2 linked regions of the Homo sapiens genome follow. The protein of the gene in region 1 purifies or fractionates together with the protein of each later gene. This does not show direct contact. Each region holds a gene or a part of one and is shown on either strand. Other genes may lie near its edges.

Region 1 (10,784 bases):
GCTATGAACATCTGCGTACAAGTTTTCATGTGGACATGTTTCCTATTCTCTTAGGTATACACCTAGGAATGGAACTGCTGGGTCATACACCAACCTGTTTACCAAAGCAGCTGCACCAGTTTTCATTACCACCAGCAGTATACAGCGTTCTTGTTTACCACATCCTGGCCAACACTGCTTATGATTTTGTGTGTGTGTGTTTATTATAGCCATCCTAGTGGGTGTGCAGCCCCTGGAATTTTGATTTGTTTTTATATCTTCCTTGCTCTCCACCAATAGATACTGAGTTGCTTGATGTCTGGGATTGCTGCTTAATCACCAGAAACCTTGTGTAAGGGTTAACCATGGGCTGAGTTTGAACCTTGTTCTTTTTGTTTATGATATATGATCTGGAGCAAGTCATGCAGCTCAAGCTCTCTAAGCTTGAATTCTTTCATCTGCAAGATGGAAGCCTCTGGAGTTGTTAAGGAAAAGAAATGCGATTCAGCTTTAGTGCCAGGACAGTGCCAGGACTATGGTGATTTCTCCATAAAGGTTTGCTGTAACAATCATAATCGTGACATCCCCAAGTGCTTGGACCTAGTACCTGTTACATGAGCGTTTATTAAATGAATCAATGAATCCTTTGCTATTGCACAATTAGCCCTCTTTTTTACTTTCTATCAACTGCTCCCCTGACTCCAGACAACAGTTTTACAAATTGATCACTCCCCAGATAAGGCAGACAGAAACAGTGGCCGGATCAATGGGAATGGTTCCCTGGAAAAGTACAACCTGAAATCCCTGTTGTGCATGCTGTGTATGGAGGATGGGATGGGTAGAGAGTACAGCAAGCTTGTATCTGCAAAGGGAAGAAGGAATAAAAGAGCTTTGCTTTCTTAAGATGAAAAACACTCAGTCTTCTTAGAAAAAGGATGACTTCAGGAAGTGCCTTGTTGAAGGTTCGATCAATGGCCCCAGGGGAGGGAAGGAACAATTCTATCCACACTTGAAGGCTGCAGAGGTGGCTTGAGGGGCTCTTAGGTATTGAGGGCCCAGAAGATGGCCTCACCACCTCCTTCCAGTTCTGTGAAGACTGCCAGGATTGGGCAGAGCCCCTGGGATCAACCACTGGGCAGCTTGCCTTGGTTCCTGTAGGCGTCTCTAGAATCCATTCATTCTGCCCACACTGGCCTTCTCTTTGTTCCTTTGAACACACTGACTGAGTGATGCCGGGTTTATTCCTCCCTCCCTCCATCCCAGACCTTGCACATGTTGTTCCCTCTGCCCCATGAGTCCCTATCCCTCTTTCCTCCCTCATTCCTCTTCAAACCTCGCCTCTCAGAGAAACCCTACCCCATCCACCGACTGAAAGGGCAGCTCCCACGCGAACCCCATCCATTCTCTTACACTGCCTAATTTGTCTTGTTTTCCTTTTTCATATTTATTTTATGTTTTTAATGGGAATATTTCCCACATAAAATAATAAAACAAGGCCGGGCGCGGTGGCTCACGCCTGTAATCCCAGCACTTTGGGAGGCCGAGGCGGGTGGATCATGAGGTCAGGAGATCGAGACCATCCTGGCTAACAAGGTGAAACCCCGTCTCTACTAAAAATACAAAAAATTAGCCGGGCGCGGTGGCGGGCGCCTGTAGTCCCAGCTACTGGGGAGGCTGAGGCAGGAGAATGGCGTGAACCCGGGAAGCGGAGCTTGCAGTGAGCCGAGATTGCGCCACTGCAGTCCGCAGTCCGGCCTGGGCGACAGAGCGAGACTCCGTCTCAAAAAAAAAAAAAAAAAAAAAAAAAAAAAAAAAAAAAATAATAATAATAATAATAATAAAACAAACACCCATGTGTCCATCTCCCAGATGTCGTAAGTCGCCAATATTTTGCCACATTTGCTTACTTCAAATCACTCCCTTTCAATCAACTGCATTGAGGCGGAACTTACTGTTTGTTGATTTTTGGCAAATGCACACGTAACTGCTACCACAATCAAGATATAGCATATTGCTATCACCCAAGAAATGTTCTTCCTTTCTCTCACTCTGCTATATTTTTCTTCCTAATACTTAGCATTACCTGAAATCATCTCATTTATGTATTTTTTAAAATCTGTGTGCTATCCATCCCCCCCACAGGAGTGTATGTTCCATAAAGTCAGGGACGGTTCTCACTGGTGTATCCTTAGTCCTGGTACATAGTAAACTGTTTTTTGTTCTGTTTTGTTTTTGTTTTGTTTTGTTTTGTTTTAAAATAAAAGGAAATATCACTGTGACTTATAAACCTGGGAGGAGCAAAGTCCAGGAGGACCTGGATGGCCTGGGCTCCTGAGAATTCTCCGCATTGCTCATACTAGAGTAGATGTGTCAGCAGGGTCATGCCCTAAAGACACCGCATCTTCCAAGCCCTTGAGAAGCAGCAGGAAACCCCTAGCAACAGTGCAAAAGGGGCTGAACTTCTTTTATTACTCAAGACACTCAGTTGACCATTCCTATTTTGAAAATCTCCATACTTGGATACCCAGGGCAGGGCAGCAGGAATGTAAAGGGGCAGAAATGGACAGATGAGGTATGATGTGAAGGGGGCAGGTCCCATCTAAAGGAGCACTGCACTGCTCTGTGGCTAGATGTTGGGTTAAAGAAAATTATTCAATGACATTTCTTTCTTTCTTTCTTTTTTTTTTTTTTTTTGAGATGAAGTCTCGCTCTGGTGCCTGGGCTGCAGTGCAGTGGTGTGATTTCGGCTCACTGCAACCTCCGCCTCCTGGATTCAAGTGATCTGCCTCAGCCTCCCAAGTAGCTGGGATCACAGGTGCACACCACCATGTCTGACTAATTTTTGTATTTTTACTAGAGATGGGGTTTCACCATGTTGGCCAGGTTGGTCTTGAACTCGTGACCTTAGATGATCCACCCACGTTGGCCTCCCAAAGTGCTGGGGTTACAGGCATGAGCCACTGCACCTGGTCCTCAATGACACTTCTTGAAGTATGGCAAGGCAGAATTTATTGAGGACCATCATGATATGTACAGGGACCACAGTAATGGGATTTTTCAGTCACAGAGAGAAACTAGGCTCAGCCTCAAATACAGCATAGACAAATGGGAATCTATAGCCATGGAGCAAAGTCGGGGGTCAGGGATTTTTTAAAAACATTACTAAGAGGAAGCATCAGAGGAGTAAGGGGGACTCTGGCTAAATCAACCTAGCAGGATTTTTGCTGGAGACAGGCCAGGGTGATCAGACATTACCTGAGGGATGACGAAGAATGAAGAACCTGTCTGGGCATGATGGCTCATGCCTGTTATCCCAACAGTTTGGGAGGCTAAGGCAGGAGGATCACTTGAGGCCAGGATTTCAAGACCAGCCTGGGTAACACAGGAAGACCTCAACTCTTAAAAAAAAAAAAATCATCCAGGCATAGTGGCACATGCCGTAATCCCAGCTATTCAGGATGTTAAGGTAGTAGGATCCCTTGAGCCCAGGAATTTGAGGTTGCAGGGAGCTATGATCATGCCATTGTTCCAGACTGAGTGATAGGGTGAGACCTTGTCTCAAAAAAAAAAAAAAAAAAAAAAGAGAGAGAGAGAATGAGGAATCTGACCAAACTGACTTAGCAGCGTTCTTTGCAGAAACTGGATTTTACAAGGTGGTGCACTGATGGGCCTAGGAGGTTTAGGAGCCTGACTAAAGTTTGGTCAAGTAAAGAATCTTTGTCACTTGCCTGGTGGGAATGCCAGCGTTACCAGATCTTCCTGTTTTTCAAGCAAGGCAAGAAACCCACATTTTTTAAAAATGTGGAATAGCCTGATTCTTGAATTGTATAATAATTAACAAGTAATTATAAGTTAAAATGTGATGTGGGGCAAACAAAATACACCTGCAGGCTGTTTGTTAGCAACTTCTGAGTTAACATGCGAGATTGTTTCTTGTTTGTTTGGGGACTAACTCACTCAGTACAGGAATCTTTTGGTTTGACTGTTCACCCTGTCAGTAGATGTTTATTGAGTATCTACTATGTGCTAGGCATTGTTCTAGAGCCGCTGGGTATTGTGCTAGGCATTTGGCATTAATTTGTTGAAATGACTGGCATCAAAAAAGATAGAGATGAAAGATAGATGATAAAGATAGATAATAGACATAGATAAATAGATGACTGACAGATAATAGATGGTTAGATTATAGATAGATGAGACAGTTAGATAGATAGATAGAGATGTTACCCTTTAAAGATACATATTGAAATATTACAAATAATATAATGACTGGGAGTTACTTCAGAGGAATATGGGGAGTTGAATGAAGGTGTAAGTGAGGGGAGATTCACCATGGGATGAGAATTTTTGAAGCTGAATGATGTTTGGGTACGAAGATGGTGGGGTATACTCTTCTGTCTGGTTTTGAATATGACTGGAAATTTCCCACACTAAAATGCTTGTTTTAATGTCCTCATCAGTTAAAGATGCATTCTGAAGGATATGCAGGTACAATGACACCATATCGAGGGCTTAGTTTAAAATATTCAGCTAAAACGTTTCACAAGTCAGAATATAGGTGAAATACCATTTGGCAAAATGTCGATAATTGTTACAATTTTGTGACGGATAGATGGAGATTTGTTATGCTAGTCTATTGTTTTGTATATGGCTGAAATTTTCTACAATACTTTTTTTTTTAAAAGGGGACAGAGAAGTGGGAGGCCTCCTGTTTTCTAGGTACCTTTGGCAGTATGGAGTCATGCACTTAGGTGTTCATGGGAATTTTCCACAGTGTGACAGAGCTGACATCAAGGGGATGGGTACTCTTCAACAAGGGATGTCACTGTGCCGAGTGTTGCTATCGTGAGGTTAGAAGCGTGGGATCTGCTGGGGACTCCAGGTTAAGAACAGATTTCTCACTCAGTTCCTCTGCAGGGCATTCTACCTCCCAGGTATCCTATTGGATGGCAGAATAACAGCAGTCAGAGTATCTGGAACCAAATCAGCCTCCCTGGGTTTAAGTACCAGCTCTACCACTTTCTTGCTGTGGCTTTGGACATGTTATTTAACCCTGTGAGCCTCGGTTTCCTCATCTGTTAAACAGAGTTAATACTAATACCTCACAGACTCATTAGTCATTACATGTAAAGCGCTTAGCGTAGTACATGGCAGTGAAGCATTTTTTAAAAAATTATTGCTGCTTTTGTTGTTATTGTTGTTGCTGTTGAGTGATCTAAGAGCGGAAAAAACTCAGAGATAGATGGACCACAATAATTAGAGGCAGAGATGAAAAGAAGTCACACACAGAGGCTCCCACTGTCAACTGATGCGCTCACAGCAACCTGTTTGTGAGCTGCTGCAATCAATTTCTTGTATGGTGGGTGCAAAAGGAATAAAAGGAGAAGGCAACTTCCTGATCATTTCCTTTCTCTACAGAATGAAGTGGAGCTGGGGGAGCTGCTTCTGTCACTGAATTATCTCCCAAGTGCTGGCAGACTGAATGTTGATGTCATTCGAGCCAAGCAACTTCTTCAGACAGATGTGAGCCAAGGTTCAGGTACCGTGTGATTCCCCTCTTCTCTCACTTTATTAATGGGGCATCTGTGTTTGTGTGGAGAACCCAGTTTTCTTTTTCCGTATCCTGGATGAGCATTACTCATCTCAGGATGAGGCAGGTAAATGATGCCATCTTAGTAACCCTATTGGAATTGGGGAGTTGACTGAGACTGGTTGTGATAACTACTGGAAACTTAAAACCTATTTGAACCCAAGGAAGTGACTTGGCCTTTCCAAATGCTATTCCTGCAATGTAGACGCCATCCTGCAGGTGGCGATAGTGTGCATTGACTATCCATTCTAATCAATGAGCGTGGAGGACACACCCTAAGGTTTTTCGCCAGCTCATTTCATGTGTGCCATAAATTTTTATGAATTCCAACTCTGAAAAGACTTGTATTTAAAGTGTGTATATTATAGCAAAAACCATTCAAACATGACTTTTAATGGAACGGAACAGATTCCATTCCATCTGCATGTTGCTTCTTCCATGACAGCAAAGGATATTACTGTGAAAGCAGCTGTAGTCAGGGATCTGTTCAGCTCAGTGGTGGAATTATTGTCTTCTCTAAGTGCGGTAGCTAAAATAAATTACTTTTGCAATAAGGTGACAGCTAGAAGACACCTTGCATTCTCAAAAGCCACATTATAAAAACAGAGGCTTAGAAAGGGCCAGTGGAGGCAATGGTATTAAGACTGAAGAGTTTCAGACTCACCACGATGGGAGAGTCAGTATGATAAAATCATTAAGGGTTTAGGAGTCAAATGATGTGGCTTACAAATGATGTGGCTTTAGGGAAGTTACTTAACCACTATGTGCCTCAATTTCTCAATCTCAAAAACTGACATAATAACAGTATTCATCTTGATAAGTTGTTTAAACAAATATTAAATTAGATAATGTACATGAATCCCTTTGTAAACTGTAAAATGATCTAAAAATGAATTATAATTCTGCCATCTCTATTCACCTGTATATGGGCTATGGGCTCACTGAAATGATAATGGGTTTCCACAGACAGAAATCCAGGGCAGGCTCTGAGTCTGGTTCTGTGTCCACCAGCAAGATCTTTAAAAACTGATTTCTCACCTTGAGTCCTCAGTTTTCTTATCTGTAAAATGAACACAATGCTGACATATGGGAGGAGCTCAACAAATATTAGATGGCTAAAGGAAGAAGGAAGGGGATAAGCAGATGAATGGGAAAATGGATGGATAATAGATGGATGGATGGTTGAACTGTCAAATAGATGAGAAATTGGATGGATAGAAAATGGATAGATAAAAGTATGGTGAGATGATGAATGGATCAGTGAACTGACGGATGGAAAGATGGATGGATGGATAAACAGGTGGATGAATGGACGGACTATGAGATGAATGAAAAGTTGAATGGGTGGATGGATAGAAGAATGGAGGAATAAAAAGACAGATGGATGGGAGGTTGAATGGCAGAATGACTGGACGGATTAGGTTTCATGATCTCCAACATTCTATGATGCTGTGTCTAATTTTCAGACCCCTTTGTGAAAATCCAGCTGGTGCATGGACTCAAACTTGTGAAAACCAAGAAGACGTCCTTCTTAAGGGGCACAATTGATCCTTTCTACAATGAATCCTTCAGCTTCAAAGTTCCCCAAGAAGAACTGGAAAATGCCAGCCTAGTGTTTACAGGTAGGTAGCATTCCAAAACCCGATGAACTCCAGGTGAGGCACGTCAAACTTACTGTCCTAGAGCCAGAAGGCATCTAGAGAGAGTTACATTTAAGAACGTAATGTCTGGCATTCAACTACCTGGGTTTGAACCCACTTAACATCTATGAACTGGGGCAGGACTCATAGAGCCCTATAATATAATTGTTAGAAATGTGGACTTGAGCCAAATTTCCTCAGACTGCCACATAATAACTGAGGTCTTTGGCAAGTTACTTAACTCCTCTGAGCTTCAGTTTCCTCATCTACAAAATGTGAACAATAATAGTACGTGTGGCATAGGTTTGTTGTGAACAGTAAATGACTTACGACTTTGCAATATACTTGGTACATAATAAGTACTCACTATGTGTTAGTTTTGATGATGATGGTGGTGATGATTCAAGTTCCCTGCAGTCAAATAGAGAGGCATATGAAAAAACAGTGTCACCTAACTCAGAAAAAGGGATTTTTAAAGTCTTCCCAGAGGATGTAGTATTTAAGTAGAGGCTTCATGTGACACTGTCTGGTAGAATTTAGTCCATTTTTCCAGGGTGTAATCTAATGTAGTATTTCCAGGGTATATTAGTTATTTATTGCAGCATAATAAATCACCCCAAAATTTAGTAGCTTGAAACAACAAACATTTATATCTCATAGTCCCTGTGGGTCAGAAATTCAGGTATACAAAGCTTTGCTGTATAGTTCTGTGTGAATACCTCTGACAAGGCTGCAATCAAGGTATTGGCTGAGGCTGCAGCCTCATCTGAAGGCTCAACTGGGGGAGGATCTCTTTTCAAGCTCACTCACAGTTTTCAGCATGATTTAGTTCCCTGCAGGCTGTTGAACTGGGGACCTCAGTTCCTTCCTGGTTGTTGGCCAGTGACCTTCCTCAATTCCTTGCCACATGGGCTTTACCATAGAACAACTCACAACATGACTTTCATCAGAGTGGTCAAGTGAGGGAGCAAGAATGGCAAGGAAGAGTCTTTTTGTAATCTAATACTGGAAATGACATCCTATTACTTTCATTATATTCTATTCACTAGAAGCAATTCACTAGGTCCAGCCCACACTCAAGAGGAAGGGATTACACAAGGGTAGGAAGAGTGGGAGGTGGGAACCACTGGGACTCATCTTAGAAGCTACTCACCACAACAGGGATAGAGTTAGTAGGAGTAATGGTTATTCTTTCTTGTGTTCTAATTACAGTATGTACTTCCCTATATCATTGCTAACATTCACCATAACCCACCCTGTCAAGTTGATATCTTCATCCTCAACTTACAGATCTAGGGACTGAGGCTTAAAACCTAAACAACCTACACAAAGTCTCAAGCTGATAGAATCAGGACTCAAGCTCTGGTCTTGCCAGCTCCACATATCAAGGGATCTATATTTCCTCAAACACCCAGGTAGGGCTAGAACTGGGGATCGACATCATCCTTTGAGACATCCTTCTCCAGGGTAACTGGAAACTCTCCTCTGGTTAGATCTTGTCTAGAACCCTGGGCTCCAGGTCTCCCAAGAAATCAATCCATGGCTGAAAAACCCTTGCATACAAGATTTCCCCTATATAAACTTATTGCTCCTTCTCACCAAGATTGCAAATGTCTATCCTCTGAGACCCCTTCGAAGCAGGTTGGTTCTGGGTTTTCTCAAGGCCTGTCACCCATAGAGTCTGCGTTGAATCAGGGGATGCCTGCCATATGCAGATATAATGATCCCTTCTAATGCAGTCTGTGATGGCTGCTGTCCGGATGGAGTTACAAATAGACAAGGGCCTCACTCTCTCCTAGGTTTCAGGCCAAGACAGAAGACCGTCACCCCTGACTCCTTAAATGGTGGACAGGCAGGTAGTGGGGCCTATTGTATATTAAACCAAGACACAGATAAAAAATGAAGTCTCTTTTCCCAAGTCCCTGCTGAGAATAAGGGACCTCCTATTGTAAGCTTAGATGAGGAGAGGACCCCAGGGGAAACTGAGAGCCCCCATGGAAAGCCCTGACACTTCATATTTTACTTAACATTTTATGATAAATGTAGCACACACGTGTTATAATGAGTGACACCATGAAAAGATGTGTAAGGACAGAGAATCAGAGGAGAACAGGGGTTATGTGCCTGTGCTGGGGAGCTGATGTCTGGGTCCTGGCTTTACCACTCACCTACTTTGGTGACCCTGGGCAAGATCTGCGTGCTTAGGTTTTCTCAGCTGTAAAATGGGGATAACAATACAGGACACTTCACAGGATTGTTATTTGCATTCAGTGAGATCAATAAACACACGGTGCTGAGCACTGTGCCACCCATAGTAAGCACTCTAGAACTGTTAACTGTTATTAAAGGGAAAGTTTAGTGTTTTCCTTTTTTCTCCCACACACATGGGGCAGCCACCACCTTCTCACTCCCTCATGCAGTTTTGTTTATTTCAGAGTGTTTTCTTGCTGTGTAATCCTTCTCCCCGCTTTTTTTTTTTTGAGACAATCTCATTCTGATGCCCAGCTGGAGTGCCATGGCATGATCTCGGCTCACTGCAAGCTCTACCTCCCAGGCTCAAGCAATTCTCGTGCCTCAGCCTCCTCAGTACTTGGGATTATAGGTGCACGCCACCATGCCTGGATAATTTTTTGTATTTTTTGTAGAGACGGGGTTTTACCATGTTGGCCAGGCCAGTCTCAAACTCCTGACCTCAAGCAATCTGCCCACCTCGGCCTCCCAAAGTGCTGGGATTACAGGCATGAGCCACCACGCCTGGCCTAATGTCTTCCTTTAATGCCTTCCCCTTTCCAGTTCCTTCTCCCTGAAGTCATGCCTTTAATGTTCTGCTGTGTAGCATTCCACACTTTTTTCCTTGTTCACACAAACAATATCCACATACAGAGGGTTCTGTTCCTTTAAAACATTATTCATGAATTCAGCAAGTGTGTATTAAACACCTTCTGTGCCAGGCAGTGCTTCCAAGTTCTGGGAATAGAGCAGTGAACAAAACAGACCTAATCCCTGCCCTGGCGGAGCTTACCAGGACATTCCATGGATACCACACTGACACTTGCTTTGGTTTAATTAACAATGAATGTGTTCGTTGCCTTCAGATCAATATGAATACAAATGGATTTAACTTTTCATTTTTAATAACTGCATTAGATACTGTTGCATGATGTAGTATGATAAAAGCTGAGGTTATTTATTCTGGGGGTGGGGGGGTATGACAGAACTTCAGGGATTGTGATTAGAACTCCAGAAAAATACATGGAAGTATGGAAAATTTTGCATATAGTTGCAGAGGTTTTTTCGAATTCCTTGAATTCCATATGGTTACCTCATAAGGCTCAAACTACAAGGGTAGCCACACCACACCCCCTCTCCATACATCTTTTATTCAACCCACGGCACTTCAGGTGGCAACTGTCAGCTGGGGCAGTGGTCAGCTGATGCTGTCAGGGAAGTCCTGTACTCTCCATTCACAGAAGACCCGCTTCTCTCCTGTAAGTTTTGGGGCCCTGACTTGGAAGTTCAGGCTCCTCTGGTTAAAAGCTCGTTGAAAATATTCTTTCTGGAGAAGGAAGCATTGC
Region 2 (10,784 bases), on another chromosome or scaffold:
CCTCCCCCGCTGGTTTTCCATAGTTGAGGTAGCAAGCCAATGTGTTGGGGTAGCTGAAAACGCCCTGTGCATACTGAGGCTTATGTTCCATGGGGGGCCAGGGGCCAGGACAGTGATGGGAGGAGACAAGGCGGATACAGAGGAGCAGATTGTCATCTCCAGCTGGGAGGTGATGGCCATGCCTGCACCCCTCTGGCCAGCAGAGGGTGGTCAGTAGGAAACTGGGAGGCCATTAGGGCAACCTTCTATTGGCTCAGACTCAGAATGCAGTAGAACTTGTGCCCTGTAGTGTTCATGGACAGGAGTGAGAGGAGGACAGGACTGAGGGGATGTGGCTGTCAAGGCCTTTCTAGGGGCGATGCTGTCTCTCCCTCAGCATAGGGAGTGGGCCCTTCCACCTCTGGCCTCTCTCCCCCAGGGCTGTGTCTGGCTGTCCCTGATAAAACTGTGAGATGGTGTGCAGTGTCGGAGCATGAGGCCACTAAGTGCCAGAGTTTCCGCGACCATATGAAAAGCGTCATTCCATCCGATGGTCCCAGTGTTGCTTGTGTGAAGAAAGCCTCCTACCTTGATTGCATCAGGGCCATTGCGGTAAGTCGCTGCTGCCTAAAAGAGAGTGGAAGAAAGCCATACTTTCTCTGTTTCCAGTCACTTTGGAACAATTCTTTACTCACAGGTAGGAGGCTGATATATGGGGCAGTCAACCTTGACTTACTAAAATCACTTCAAAAGTGGAAATGGGGAGGTTTTCTTTAATGTGTCTGGAAAGCAAAAGTCAAAAAGCACATTAACTTTTGCTTTCCAGACACAGTAGACGCAAGGGTGACTGTTTTGAGACCCTAGGTTCTCTGAACTTGGCGAAAATATAAGAATGCCTGCTATCAGGCTGGGCGCGGTGGCTCATGCCTGAAATCCTAGCACTTTGGGAGGCTGAGGCAGGTGGATCACCTGAGGTCAGGAGTTCGAGACCAGCCTGGCCAACATGGCGAAACCCCATCTCTACTAAAAAATATAAAAATTAGCTGGGCATGGTGGTGCATGCCTGTAATCCCAGCTACTTGGGAGGCTGAGGCAGGAGAATCACTTGAACCGGGGAGGCAGAGGTTGCAGTGAGCCAAGATCCTGCCACTGCACTCCAGCCTAGGTGACAGAGTGAGGCTCCATCTCAAAATAAATAAATAAATAAGAATGCCCACTATCAAAATTATTATATAACCTTCTTTGGCAGCTTTTGATACACAACTGGGAAGATGAGTGATGCATGCAGGGGGAAGAGTAAAGTGTCCTGATTGCAGGTGACAGCTGATCTTTTTGTTCTTAGGTCTACAAAAATGCTCTTCATTCTTTCAACGTTGCCCCTGCCCATCTGTACATGTCAGATCCTGTGCTGGGCAATGGGGCTGCAGTGGTGAATTAAACACATTGGTCCTTACCCTCAGGGAGCTCATGGGCTAGTCAGGAGAGCAGAAAAACACACGAATAAGTAAACTACTAATTCCAAAATGTGGGGATGTACAATGGAGGGAAAAAGGAGAGTGTTCTGACAGGGACTCACAGAAAAACCTGCTTTGTCCTGGGTGGTCAGAGACCATCTCTCTGAGAGAGATGTAATGAAGGACTGAGCCTGGGTGGGCTCCAGTGTAAAATACACCAGGCAGCAAACAAGAGCATATGCAAAGGGCCTGAGGCAGAGCAGAGTGGGCTTATTTAAGTTGCTAGTGGGAGGCCAGGGTGATGGGAGCTGTCAAAGATAAGCACAGCCAGATATTAGTTTAGGCAGTGACAATAGGTTTCATTCAGTAACTGCTGACAGTGGGGGAAAGAGCTAGGCTCCATTCTGATTTGTGCAGTGGTGATGTGAGCATTTTAAAGGGAGAATGAGGGAGGGGAGAACGCAGGGCTCTGTAGAGTCAGAGAAGTAAAAAGGTAGAAAGGGCTGGTCAGTGTAAATGTGAGGAGGCCAGCTGTGTCTGATAGCTGGCAGTTCTCTCGATTAGGACTCTATTCTCCCGCAGAGACTGCGAGACAGACACTCTATCCATCCTGATGATTGTGTTGCAAAGGAATGGCTCTCAGTCCTTGAGAGAGATGCTTGTGAGTTTCAAGAGATACATATTCACAGTTTTAAGTCCTTTTTAGTAAATTCTCTTGGAAAGGGAGGTCAGGGGCCTATCATCAGTTGTGTGTTGAGTAGAAGAAACAGGTACATTTTCCTGGCAGCACTGAGTTTTCTCAGGCAAGCACTTTAAGGGGAACCGGGCCATCCTAGGGACACAGATTTGTTCTGCTAGGAGCCATGCCAGAGTCTGGTCAGGTCTCTTAGTGCAGAGGTTTGGACAGATGTGTCAAGTGTGGGAAATTCTACAGTTCTCAGCACAAAGCAAGCAGTAGGTTAGCCGAAGGGAAAAGGTGGAAGAAACATCCAGATGCAGCCTGGCTTCCCTCAATCCCCGCGCTGGGGTTTTCCGTGTCTTTCTGCTGGCTTCCCCTTGGCTTCCCTCCAGCCTTCTCTCTGTAGCTTTCCCTCTTCTGGGTTTGGTTATTTTGACTTGTGAGAGCTTGCTTGATTATAATCCTGTCCCTCCCAGCTGGCGCAGGTTCCCCTGGGAACCCTGCAGCTCTAGGGCTGGACGCTGTGTTTTAGGCCTTAGCTCTTTGGCTCCCTGAGCCCCCGAGGCACCAGTGATTTCTTGGTGTCTTGGCAAAGAAAGACCAGGTTCCTGACCACTCTCCCAACCCCACTGCAATGGGCAAAGCTCTCGTTTGTTTGCTTCATTTTTTAAAAAATATATATATATTTTATTATACTTTAAGTTCTAGGGTACAAGTGCACAACATGCAGGTTTGTTACATATGTACACATGTGCCATGTTGGTGTGCTGCACCCTGTTTGCTTCATTTTTATTCAACAATGTGAGGACTGGGGAAGGGAAGGTGTTTGCAGATTAAACAAAACCACGAAGTGTGTTTCATATATAAGGTCTAGTTGTTGTGGAACAGAAAGGCCCATGATGTCTGTTAATTTTGTTTTGTATTGTGGTATATTAAAAATATGTTTTACAACCCAAATATCCATTGATGAGTGAATAGATAAATAAAATGTGGTAAACACAAATGATGAAATATTTTTAGCCTTAAAAATAAATGAAACTCTGATATATGCTACACTGAGATGAACCTTGAAAACATAAGTGAAGCAAGCTAGATACAAAAGGACAAATATTGTAAGATTCCACTTTTTTTTTTTTTTTTTTTTTGAGACGGAGTTTCGCTCTGTCGCCCAGGCTGGAGTGCAGTGGCGCGATCTCGACTCACTGCAAGCTCCGCCTCCCGGGTTCACGCCATTCTCCTGCCTCAGCCTCCCGTGTAGCTGGGACTACAGGCGCGCGCCACCATGCCCGGCTAATTTTTGTATTTTTAGTAGAGACGGGGTTTCACCGTGTTAGCCAGTATGGTCTCGATCTCCTGACCTCGTGATCCGCCCGTCTCGGCCTCCCAAAGTTCCACTTTTATGAAGTATCTAGAATAGTCAAATTTATAGAAACAGAAAGTAGCATAATGACTACCAGGGGCTGGAGTGGGGGAGAAATAGGAGGTAATTGTTTAATGTGTAAAGAGTTTCAGTTTCTGGAGATGGATAGATGTGATGGCTATAAAACAACGTGAATGCATGTACTTAATGCCACTAAAATGTACACTTGAAAATGGTTAAAATTGGCTGGGTGCGGTGGCTCACGCCTGTAATCCCAGCACTTTGGGAGGCCGAGGCGGGTGGATCACCTGAGGTCAGGAGTTTGAGACCAGCCTGGCCAACATGGTGAAACCCCATCTCTACTAAAAAAAATACAAAAATTAGCCGGGTGTGATGGCAGGCGCCTTAATCCCAGCTACTTGGGAGGCAGAGGCAGGAGAATCGTTTGAACCCTGGAGGCAGAGGTTACAGTGAGCCGAGATTGAGCCATTGCACTCAAGCCTGAGGGACAAGAGCGAGACTGCTGATATAGTTTGTCTTACAACATATTTTATTTCATTTAGAAATACTATTGTCTTATTACTTGATTGTAACACAACAAAGTTCATGGAACTATAGCTTTTGCTTTGTAATTTTTTTTTTTTTTTTTGAGAGTCTTGCTCTGTCACCTAGGCTAGAGTGCAGTGGTACAATCTCGGCTCACTGCAACCTCTGCATCCCAGGTTCAAGCGATTCTCCTGCCTCAGCTTCCCAAGTGGCTGGTATTACAGGCATGTGCCACCAAGCCCAGCTAATTTTTGTTTGTTTGTTTTGGTAGAGACAGTGTTTCACCATATTGGCTAGGCTGGTCTCGAACTCCTAACCTCAGGTGATCCACTTGCCTAGGCTTCCCAAAGTGCTGGAAGTACAAGGTATGAGCCACTATACCTGGCCTGCTTTGTAATTTGATCAATAAGAAATCTTCATAGAGAACTGGCAAGGGCTTCTGGAAAAATCATTTTGATTAAAGACATTTAAAACAAAAAAGGAGTAAAACTATGTGTTTAAGTGTCTAAATAAAAGATGGTTGGGCTCACTTTAAGGATTTACATAAAAAGAAAATAAATTATAGATCTAGTAAGAAGGCAGCTATAATATTTCAAGGGACCTGTTGATGTAAAGATGAGGGCTTACAGAAGCACAAAGTCAAAAAGGAACATAACCTGAAGTAACAGTGTAATGATAAGAAATAAACCCGGAATGTCTGCACTGAAATCCCAGCTCCATGACTTACTGGCTATGTGGCCCAGGGAAGTGACTTAACCTTTCTGTGCCTCATATTTCTCACTTGTAAAATGGAGCTGAGAGAGAAAGAGAGATGAGCTGCCCATGTGTTGGAGTAGACAATTATACCAGAGATGAGCAAAAATGGAAATAATAATCAAGCTTTTGATCATTCAGTACATAGTATCACCAAGAAGCTAAACCCAGAGAAAGTGCCCAATCCCTCAGCAAAAGGGTCATGCAGTTTTATGGACCCAGGACAGGAAGGAAGAGCATTGAGTACTGAGTCAGAGTGAAGACGAATGTTTTCAAGGTTCCCATCTTCCCCCAGAAAAAAAATCTCCACAGAAGCACCTGAGGAAGACCTCAAAGGAAGTCTCAAAATAAAGAGGGCTCTGAGCAAAGGTCATGGGCTAGGAATGAAAACAGGTGTAAGAAGAGCGTGGCCAGCCCAAGAGAGCTGTGTCCTTGACAGCAGAGTCCCCTCCAGAGACTGCATTGCACTGGCTGTGCTCTGAGTCTGGGGTGGCGAGGGCGGCTTTCTCCCACGGAGCCTGCCAGGTTAAGCCTTCGTAATTGCCTACGGTAAAGTCACGTAGGATTTTTGGCCAGGAGCTGGGCACCTCACCGGGGAAAAGAGAAACACAATCCATCACTCCCTCTATGCAGAAGGAATAGGAATGTGGTGGCTAAGTGCCCTTGCGAGGGAGACAGAGTCAACTGAAGCCAGCAGGGCTGTGCGTGGTCTAGTCAAGTTCTGGCCCTGGGTCCGTGGAGTCCTGGTAGCCACTCTCTACTTGTGTGGGTTGAGGTGGGCCTTCCTTGGAAGTCAAGGCTTCATCCAGGACTGGCCTGTTCTCTTTCAGGCAAACGAAGCGGATGCTGTGACACTGGATGCAGGTTTGGTGTATGATGCTTACCTGGCTCCCAATAACCTGAAGCCTGTGGTGGCAGAGTTCTATGGGTCAAAAGAGGGTAAGTTCTCCCTGGGACCCCAGGAAGGAGTTGTCATCCTTATTCTATATGCTGAGTGCTGTGTTTTACAGGCAGGTTTTGGATATCAGATATAATGAACATTCATCTTTGGAGAGTGAGTAGAGAATGAGGGGCCCTGTCAGCTGCCACAGCCACACATCAAGGCCTCTGGGGGCTTTGGGCTGGCTGAGGACTGGTGCTCCTAAAACTGAGCCCTGGGCCAGGGGCATATGCTTATCAGAGAAACACAGCAGGCTGTGTGCAGCTTGACCTGAAGGCTACTGCGGTCTACTGATATGTCTAGGGTCCCTGGAGGCCTCTGGAGCCATAGGTACCACTCACACAGGAGGGGTCACTCTGGAGCACACACTCAGAGGCCAGCAGCCCTGCAAGTCTTCTGAGATCAACCTGACTGTCTCTGGGCCTGTGCCAGGGGACATGAAATACTTTGATGGGCCTCTGTTACCACAGCTCCAGTTTCCTGGTGGCTGAGGTTGGTAGGTGTAGGCAGACACGCTGCAGGGCCAGGGGAGGCAAAGCATTCAGGACACATGTGCGTGTGGCCTTCTTGCCCCTGTTTGCCTGGAGGGGTAATATTATAAATATTCCTTCTATGGTCTTCTCTCTCCCCTGCAACCCTAGGAAGGTTTTCCTGATTCCCCACTCCTTATCGCCCAGTCCAGTAAAAGCATGGCCTCTCCGCTCCCCTCCCTCCTCAAGAGTCCGGTGGTGATGAGCCATGTTTCCCTGCACCAGGCTGAGGGCCTTCCATTCACACTGTGCCTTTGCAGATCCACAGACTTTCTATTATGCTGTTGCTGTGGTGAAGAAGGATAGTGGCTTCCAGATGAACCAGCTTCGAGGCAAGAAGTCCTGCCACACGGGTCTAGGCAGGTCCGCTGGGTGGAACATCCCCATAGGCTTACTTTACTGTGACTTACCTGAGCCACGTAAACCTCTTGAGAAAGGTAAGCTGGCAGGAGTCTGGGTGCCCTCGAGCAGCTGCCTCTGCTCCAGATGCCCACACAGGCTGCACTAGACAGTCACCATCAGCAGACATGTGGGATGAACTCAGGTGGGGGAAAGAGGTTAACAGACTTTAAACTGGCAGGTCTGCTGCACCAGCAGCACTTGGGAGGTGGAGCTGAGCTTTTTTCTGCTCTGAGCTTCCAAAACCCCAGCAGAGGCTGTTCTGATGAGTGAGGAAAGGGCGCAAGGCTCGGCAGAGGGTTTCAGTCTAGGCGATGGTGGTTCTCTTGTCCACTTCTCTGGATTTCTTTCCTGGAGGTTTCTCTGGAGCCCTGCACCTCTCTTAAGCAGTTCTCATGTCTGGGGCATGGATCCCAGAGGGGACCTCTCTCTGAGCTGTTCCAGCCTCTGACAAAGCAGGGAGAAGGTGCTCTGAGAAAGACCCGAGATAGGCCTTGGTTAGTGGGAAGCATAGGCCTGTTTCCTCTGATGGATGGTGGCCAGACAGAGGTCAACTTGTTCCTATTAGAAATCCTTGATCTTGATGAGTTAGCATAAGGGCAAGCTGGGGCTGCATGTGCTGGTTTGGTTTTAGTCCCCTCTGTTCCCTGATGGGCCTGGGTGGGGTGATGCCATTGGCTGTGGCCAGCCTCACTCATGCTCTGTTGTCCATTTCTCTGTGCTGAGCAGCAGTGGCCAATTTCTTCTCGGGCAGCTGTGCCCCTTGTGCGGATGGGACGGACTTCCCCCAGCTGTGTCAACTGTGTCCAGGGTGTGGCTGCTCCACCCTTAACCAATACTTCGGCTACTCGGGAGCCTTCAAGTGAGTGAGATGTCTGCTGCTCCATGGTGGCCAAAGTGCCAAATGTCCTCAGGGTGAGAGTTCTTTGCTGGTCCAAAGCCGAGCCCTGCCTGCCTACAGGGGCATCGAGGTGGCCTAATCCCCTCCCAGTGAGTCAGAAGCACAACCTGGGACTCCTAGGCCAAGCCAGCCCATGTTCCCTTTCATCTGACCCTGACAAGTAGGTCCTTTTCCTGGGGACCCTTCCTTTCTCCCCAGAGCCCTCAAGCCTGGTCAGTGTCTCCTCTCGGTGGATCGGGCAGAGCCTGAAAGGACAATCATGCCTCTAGTGTCTGGGCCCACTGTCCAGGGACTGGCCCTCTTCCCTCAATCTCAGCAGTGTTACCTGCTCAGCACACTGCCTGTCTCCTGCCCCCATCACCGTCTCTATCTGGGAAGCTGATTTCTTGCTTTCTCTTTTTACCTTGATTATATCCTAAAGTTTTACAACCAGCCAAAGGCACATTTTCACCCTCAGGAGACACTATACCATTATCTTCTATTCCAGAAGTTTAAAAGCTCTTTTCACATGAAAATATCTTCAGTTGCATTTTGCTTCTTTGGGTTATGAGGGCTTTTTATCTCGTGTGAGCTCATTCCCCCATCTCAGCACTACGCTGGAGGTCTGCACACCATGGTGTTGCTTCAGCTACGGGGCTGCACCAGGCTCTATCCTAGTGTGAGTGCTGGACAGTGTGATCAGACTCTCCAGGTGCAGGAGAAGGGCCTGCCCTGCAGGAGCCCTGCTGATGTGTTTCTTTGACCCAGGTGTCTGAAGGATGGTGCTGGGGATGTGGCCTTTGTCAAGCACTCGACTATATTTGGTAAGAATGGGACAAGAATCCACCAGGGCCACTCCAAGTAGTGGGTGTTCTTTTTCTGTGTTCCCTTTTTCATGCTCAGTAATTGGAAATGAGCATACTGTATTTCTCCTTTATCATTGCCTGGGTTTCCACCTGTGCAGAGTTAGGTACCTACGGGGTCCCCATCTGGATTCCTGGGCCTCTTTCCATCATTCAATCTCTCCACACGGTGCCTCTGCCTCTGGGGTAGTGTTGCCATAACCAAAGACTGGGGGTTGGTGCTGCTAAGATCAGGCTCATGGTGGAATGAGGAGCAATCACTGCTACATGGGCATCAGAAGCCTTTACCTGGCTGTGGGCTCTTGAGCGAGTCATTCTCCCGCATGTTCTCTGGCCTTCAGTGCTCACTCCAGACCTCTCAGCTCATACTTTCTATGATCAATTGAATTTCAAGGATGGGCACCACAGCCCATGGCTCTCCTGTGTTAAGCTCACCTGGGCTTTCCCTCCCCAGAGAACTTGGCAAACAAGGCTGACAGGGACCAGTATGAGCTGCTTTGCCTGGACAACACCCGGAAGCCGGTAGATGAATACAAGGACTGCCACTTGGCCCAGGTCCCTTCTCATACCGTCGTGGCCCGAAGTATGGGCGGCAAGGAGGACTTGATCTGGGAGCTTCTCAACCAGGCCCAGGTATCCCCACCTGCCATCCTCCCCTCCAGCTTAGTGCTCCCTGCTTGGATTTGGGGGTTTTCCTCCTGGCCATCTTGTCACTCTGGAAGTCTGTGTGTTCAGGATACAGTGGGAGCCATGCCACATGTCACTAAGTTCTCTAAAAGCTGGGACTCCCCACAGAGCAGCAGGGAGCCTGCTGTGGTGCTACCGTCTGCCGCCCTTGCCTTTCTGGCTGGTGACACCTGAAGAGGCTCTGTATTGCTCTGTTGCATTCCTTTCTACCTAAACTTCAAGGCCCAAAGCTAAACCCCTCCCCAAGGAGGCTTTCCATGACCCTCCCAGAAGGAAATGGTCTCTCTCCCCATGCCCCTCAGCCCGGCTGTGAGGGGGCTGCCTGCACAGCGGCTTTACTTCCCAAGAGCTGTGTGATTTGGGCTCAGCCAGCTTCCTCTTGCCGAGCCGTCCCATCTGTCCACTGAGAGTTTGACTGGTAACCACACAGGGCAGCCTCTGGATTAGCCACGTTTCTTGTTCTCACCGATGTCTCAACCCGTTCCGGGAGACAGGCACAGAAGCAGGTTCAGGCAAATCGCGGACCCACGAGGGCTACAGGCAGAGGAAGTGCTGGGTGAGCAGGAGCAGGTCCGACTGCCCTCTCTCCTGGCATCTTGAACTTTTTCATGTTGTTTCCTGCAGAGATTTCTTTTCTCTTCAGTCCCATTTCTCAGCCTCCTTTCTTCTGTGTTGCCATCCACTATTCTGTTTTTCTATGAACAGGAACATTTTGGCAAAGACAAATCAAAAGAATTCCAACTATTCAGCTCTCCTCATGGGAAGGACCTGCTGTTTAAGGACTCTGCCCACGGGTTTTTAAAAGTCCCCCCCAGGATGGATGCCAAGATGTACCTGGGCTATGAGTATGTCACTGCCATCCGGAATCTACGGGAAGGCACATGTGAGTACCTGGGAAGAACCAGGTGACCACAAGCACTTGGGAAACCTGGTGAGCACAGGGGCCAGAGATTGAGTCTTTTCAGGGACCTGCACGCCTCTCCTGATGCTCCTTTTTCTGACCTGTCTGTGAGCCCAGTGTTAGACTGATGCTGAATGGCGTTAGTCATTATGAGATGGCCTTGATGTCACCATGGGCTTTACAGGAAATCCACATTTAAAATGACGTGGGTTGGTTCCAGTATTTCCTTTGCATCAATCAGGACTGCCTTACCTACTCTGTGAAGGCAATTAGCTTATCACAGAGTAAGTGAAATAGAACAAAATTGCTATATATTGCACATCTCCAGCCAGTCAACATGTACCATAATGAAGAGGTGCTCTAAGAGAGGTTGATCCCAGTCCTGGATTTCACTGAGTCACTGTGGTTTTGCTTGACCATTCATTTATTCAGCAGACATTTATTGAACATCTAGCCATATGCTCTGCTAGGTGCTGGACATAGGATGGCATGACAAATATATATTTGATTCTGTTGTCCTGGAAATTTCAAACTGGGGAGAAGATAAATGTTTAATGAATAGTCATGCTATTGGATGATGAATTACAAAGTAAGAGATATGTTTAAAAGGGGAAAAATATGACAACAAAATACCATGGCCCTATGAGACTGCAAAACAAAGAAAAATAGGCCCTGGACTTGGCGTTAAGGCAAAGCTTCCTTGAGGAAGTGACTCTTGAGCTCAGTCTGAAAGATGAGCAGATGTACATTTATTCATCAGACATTTATTATGCTGACCATGTGCTAGCATTGCCCTAACCCTGAGGATGCCCT

Evidence for each region.
Region 2: the proteins of SYT17 (region 1) and TF purify together in Homo sapiens (affinity purification with mass spectrometry; 3 studies listed by BioGRID and IntAct, with this or other methods). This does not show direct contact.

The regions. Positions count from the first base shown.
Region 1 is NC_000016.10:19,217,648-19,228,431, forward strand, and holds part of SYT17 (synaptotagmin-17), read left to right. Parts: intron 1-5,397; coding exon 5,398-5,518; intron 5,519-7,035; coding exon 7,036-7,191; intron 7,192-10,784. UniProt on the Homo sapiens protein: Plays a role in dendrite formation by melanocytes.
Region 2 is NC_000003.12:133,747,994-133,758,777, forward strand, and holds part of TF (serotransferrin isoform 1 precursor), read left to right. Parts: intron 1-418; coding exon 419-591; intron 592-5,601; coding exon 5,602-5,710; intron 5,711-6,501; coding exon 6,502-6,678; intron 6,679-7,369; coding exon 7,370-7,502; intron 7,503-8,288; coding exon 8,289-8,344; intron 8,345-8,837; coding exon 8,838-9,016; intron 9,017-9,775; coding exon 9,776-9,953; intron 9,954-10,784. UniProt on the Homo sapiens protein: Transferrins are iron binding transport proteins which can bind two Fe(3+) ions in association with the binding of an anion, usually bicarbonate.